Regions from separate parts of the Homo sapiens genome. Here region 2 is linked to region 1. The links come from fine-mapping of genetic effects on gene expression. Tissue or cell type: pancreas. Region 1 holds a variant in brackets; the other region holds the start of a gene. All regions are shown on one strand. Distances are from middle to middle.

Region 1 (2,686 bases):
CCAAACAAGTTAAATGCAAGCTTAAATGTGTCTCTAAAGTACCAAGGAGTCTGGGAGTGAAACCACTAGTTAAGTCATTCATTCCTCCTGAGGTTAAATAATAATAATAGGAGTGCTTTTCCTATTTATTCTTCCTTCATGCAGAGTTTTAATTTAAAATTTTGAGTCTGTTGTCTTTTATTTCCAGAATACCGCTTTATAAAATTGATTCTGACGTTGTTTTTTGTCCTGTATTATCTAAAGAGATACCATGTATTAATTCTTCCTGCAATTTTATAAACAAAACTCATTCAATATAGAACCCAATGGGCTACATCTGTAACCCACGGGAAGCATTCAGAATATTTGTGATGTATCAAATTTATGACAAAGATAAAACTAAAGCAATTTCATTGTGTTTGTAGGCAAAACGAGGGCATTTAGCCAGATGTTCACCAAGGGCTCTTCCAACCTTGTGAGTTTATGATTTTAGGGCAAATGAGAACAACAGCATAGGTTTCAGATTAATTGTGTGAGAAGTATATTGTCTTTGCACAGATGAATAGAACATAACGGCAACGAATATCAGGAAGAACATTTCCAAAATTATCTTAAATGCTTTATTATTGTACAGCTTCATTTTTTGGTTTTCTTACTTTGTAAGAAATGCCACTATTGTGGGGTTTCAAGCGTAATTCAGCAAATGGTATGTCTAATTGTAATTTCTTCCATATTCCCAGGACAGAAGCCACAGGACCAAGAGCCATTTTGCAAGGTCAATGGGACTAAGTGAGAAAAGGGGAGAACATTATCCAGTTGTTTATGTGTCCAGAAAGAGAGTTTTTCAAAAGTTCATCTCTTGGTAGGAATTCAAAATGCCTTTGCCCAAACCATTGAGACTATATGGTTAGGTTACCAGGCTAGATTCTAAGAGCCTGTTTAACCCTAAATATAAAAAGATTATTAAGGCAGACATGGTGGTTCATGCCTGTAGTCCCAGCTACTTGGGGAGGCTGAGGCAGGAGGATCGCTTGAGCTTGCTCCTGGGCTGCAGTGCTGTGTGCTGATCAGGTGTCTGCATTAAGTTCATCACCAATATAGTGACTTCCCGGGAATGGAAGACCACAAGGTTGCCTAAGGAGGGGTGAACTAGCTCAGTTTAAAAA[C/T]GGAGTAATTCAAAACTCCTGTGCTGATCAGTAGTGGAATCACACCTGTGAATAGCCATTGCACTCTTGCCTGGGCAACATAGCAAGACCCCACCTCAATAAATAAATAAGTAAATAGGATTCTTCAAAATTTTATTTTGATTTATTTAGCCTCATGTATAGCATCTTTTTCTTAGGAAAAAAAGTCCACACTCCCAGCTGTAATGCCATAGACATATCTCCCCCAGCCCAGCAGTAGAAACAGACTTGCAGTGTGAAGACAGTCTATGGGCAGGGATCGGTGTAGGTGATCAAATCCACTCAGTACACCCAAGCTTTATATCTGCCTAAGAGAAGGCAAAATTGTTGCAAACTGGAGAACAAGGAAAAGTTACCTTGAGGAGTGGAGTTCTGAGTGTCAACTCTCTCCCTTGCTATATTTAAATTATATTACACATTGAATATTCACAAAGGGCTGCTTGTCTTTGCATTCATTTTGAATCCTGTTTTGTGACCATGATTGGGGACGCAAAGGTTTTTTGTCCTTTGTCATACTTAGTAAATGGTTTTATGTTCCTTGATTATGATACATTTGTTTTTGAAATTCATTGCAATATCTAAATTGATGATTATCACAAATGAGTGTCAGTGCTTGGCTGTCAGTGTTTTTCTTTTAGCAGAAATGAATGAACAACATTTTTTGAATTACTATCTTGTGGGTTTCATTTTTAACTACTGGAAGAGAAAAAACACAGAATGAAAAACTATATTTTGAACCAAACATGAGCTCAATCATTCATTCAACAAACATTTATTGAGTACCAATCATTGGGCTAAGTGCTTTGGAGTATAAAAAGATGAATGAATTGCATTTCCTGAACTCATGGAACATGATTTGAGGAAATAAGACAGATAAATAAATAGCTCTACTAAAGGTAAAGTGAATAAATACCTTAAGAGATGACAGAGCTCTTCGGGCATCAAAGTGGGAGCGGAGACCCCATTCAGCTGAGAATTTTCCAGAGAAATTGGCACATAAACTGATTCTTGTTAGAGAGGGAGGATTTAAAAAGTGTTGAAACGGGACCCCGAGGGGAGAGAATGGAAAACCACTGATGGTTTTAGAAAGGAAAATGACATGGGTTAGCTGTGTGGTTTAGAAAGATCACAGATACTAGCTCGGTGGCTATTGTAATGATTCAAATAAAGCTGTGAGCCAGGTAAGAGACCGCAAATGTGAATGGAACACACAGATTTGAGAGATGCTTCAGATGCAGAATCAACAAACCTTGGGGATGCTTTGGAAACAAGAGGTGGAAACACAGATCTGGCAATCAGTAAAGGTAATTACTAAAATCTAAAAATGTGGTTCTTAAGCTTATCAAGCACAAGAATTACCTGGAGAGCTTATTTAATGGCAGGTTTCAGGCTCCACTCTGCCGAGAGAAGATTCAGTGTTGAGCCCAGGAATCTATTTTTAAGCAGCATCCCAGAAGATGTGGATGCAGGTGCTGGGCTGATCACACTTTGAAAAGCACTGCGATGGAAGTGGAGGTCCCCCA
Region 2 (2,686 bases), 32 kb after region 1:
CCTGTAATTCCAGTACTTGGGGAAGTCGAGGTGGGTGGATCACTTGAGGTTGGGAGTTCGAGACCAGCTTGGCCAATATGGAGAAACCCCGTCTCTACTAAAAATACAAAAATTAGCTGAGTGCGGTGGTGCACCTATAATCCCATCTACTTGGGATGCTGAGGCAGGAGAATCGCTTGAACCCAGGAGGCAGAGGTTACAGTTACAGAGCCAAGATTGTACCATTGCACTCCAGCCTGGACAACAGAGCGAGACTCAGTCTCAAAAAAAAAAAATTCCTCCTACCTTGGCCTCCCAAAATATTGGGATTATAAGCTTGAGCCACTGTGCCCAGCTGAAGCTGCTCTTCTTAAGGCTCATTGAGGGGTAGGGCAGAATCCCTGTGCCTTTGGTTGGAATTACAGAAACCACTGCTCCCACTGCCCTCAGCTTCCCCAGACCCGGGAAGTGACCATTCAGCACTGGCACTGCATAGATTCCAGGGCATCACCCTTTACTTATTCTGGGGAAGGGAAAGCACATAGACCCGCCTCTCATTTATCCCTCACTGCAACCCAGTGAGACACACATTGAAGTAAAGTGATGTTCTCAAAGCCACATGATTAATTAGGAACCCAGGAATTGAACCTAGCTGTTTGACTCTAAAGGTCTTTCCACTGTGACCTTGCCCTCTCCTGCTGCCTTATTTTCACCACTCAGTTCTCTCTGCTCCATCTTTACTCAATGGTTGCTCCACCTGCCCATACGCAAACACTAGGAGGATGCTGCTGAAGGCCTGGAGCACCTTCACTGCAAACATAGTCAGTCAGCAGCAGCAGTAAGCCAGGCAACCAGTCATGAAACTTTCCCATCCAAGGTACTTCTGGGGGCTGGAGGAAACAATAAGGAGAGAGAGAGAGAATAAGAGAGAGAGAGAGCAACGTTTAGGCTTTAACGAGAATCTTGCCTAGTTGGCAATCTGCTGGATGAAATGTCAGAGATTTTTGCTAACCCACTCACCTTTGACAGCAATAGCTTCTGAGTATTGGGATCTCCAGAGAGAGGGGCAGTTGAAGCAGAGCACATTCAGTGTCTTTTTGGAGTCTCAAAAAAATTGCAAGGTGGGAAGTGCTGGCCCTCTCCTGCTCCCACTGAAATGAAGCTGGAAGAGAATTGCACACCCAGCTGGGCATCTCAGGAGACCTAGGCAAGTTCAGTCTTGAGTGACAAACTCAGTGGTCTTGTCACTTCAGCTCATGGCCTTCCTGAGGTCCCCCAGCATGAGTCTCCTCCACGAGAGACCTGACCAATGGTGACCCAGCCTCTGTTTGAGCGTCATCTACCAGCAGAGATGGGGACTCCTGGCCCCAAGGCTCCCAGCATAGCCTGACACTTTGAGCTATTCCAGTCCTTTCTTATTTTGAGATTAAATCTCCCTCCCTACAGCTCCCTTCCACAGTCAGGAGGAAAGTCCTGCTGAATGCAGGCCCTGAAGCAAGGGCCAGGGAAGCTTTTCCTCGTCACCCTCCCAAAGTCAAGACTTGGAAAGGCAGCTCTGAGCCCCTGGCTTGGCTGGCTGGCCGGAGCAGGCAGCCACTGTGCCTGCAGGGAATTCTGCACAGCCAGTTTCCTCATACCTGAGCCGTCTACAGCTGCACGCACCACTCCCGGCCTCAACACACTATTTAAGGCCAATACACGGGAGCTGGTTGTGAGTCACCAAGGAAGGCAGCGGCAGCTCCACTCAGCCAGTACCCAGATACGCTGGGAACCTTCCCCAGCCATGGCTTCCCTGGGGCAGATCCTCTTCTGGAGGTAGTATATACTCTTCTCTCTATCCTTATGGGTGAAGGGAACAGCAGTGAGGTCTTTTGGGGATGCTGAGCACTGCTGGGCTGTCCCATAGGACCCCACCTGTAATTTTATCTGATCCAGCATTGGGCCAGCGGGAGCCTGGCCAGACAAGAGCCTAACTGGATTTGACTTAACATCCCACCTCAGCTGCTCAAGGCACCTGTTCAGGGTTAGGGAGGTTTTTGGTTGGTGGCCTGCCATGGAGGGCTGGCGCTTGCTGGGCAGCTTGGACTGAGGGGAGTACGTGCCAAGCTGGGCATTCCCCTGAGATGTCAAGGCTGTGAGCACCATGGGGACACTGAGCAGGCTGGTGTGGGTTGCATGGTGGGATGGCAGGGAATCCATGACTGCGACAGTGGAGGGGATGCAGGAGGACCCTTTATGCAGCCCCCAGGGGGACGGAGGAGAATGTGCTTTCATTCTCTGTGGGTGTGATTTCTTGCTACTCTTGAGCAATTCACACCAACACCCCTCCCCAGGCCCCCCCAGCTCAAAGGTTGGGTCCCTAGTTTTCCTAGGAGCTCCTTGGAGAGGAGAACTTGCTGCTGCTGCTGCTGCTGCTGCTGCTGCTGAACTCCCCAGAGAGGAAGAAGGAAGCAAGTTCCCTCCCCTACCTTTTGCTTCTCCCCTGAGCTACATTCTAGTTGCCTCTTTTTCCCTCAGAACAGCATTTACCCTCCTGGAAGGAAAGAGATGGAAAGTGCAGGGTTTTCTTGAAATGATTGATTCAGTGTCAGTCACAACTCAGGACAGTGTTTAGGGAGGCTGATACTTGTTGGTTCTAGAGGTTGTTTGAAGGACCAGTCCTCCAATTTGTTTCTTTTTCCCACAAAAGGAAGAAAAGAAGAGAGGG

Direction of the effects. Positions count from the first base shown, and alleles are read on the strand shown. Sizes are in standard deviations (SD) of each study's normalised expression.
In carriers of allele T in region 1, the expression in pancreas of the gene that starts at base 1,691 in region 2 tends to be higher than with C alone (small effect, 0.35 SD a copy in GTEx).

Evidence for each region. PIP is the estimated chance that this variant, and not a neighbour inherited with it, causes the effect.
Region 2: it holds the start of VTCN1, and the variant in region 1 is fine-mapped to the expression of VTCN1 in pancreas (GTEx, PIP 0.94).

What each region holds. Positions count from the first base shown.
Region 1 is chr1:117,241,769-117,244,454 of GRCh38, reverse strand. No RefSeq gene overlaps it. Among named protein-coding and RNA genes, the nearest start is that of VTCN1, 32 kb to the right of the region's middle. The variant C/T (reference allele first, on the strand shown) is at 1,146.
Region 2 is chr1:117,209,932-117,212,617 of GRCh38, reverse strand. It overlaps VTCN1 (V-set domain containing T cell activation inhibitor 1), which reads left to right and starts at 1,691. Exons shown (of 6, transcript NM_024626.4): 1 at 1,691-1,794. The coding sequence starts at 1,763.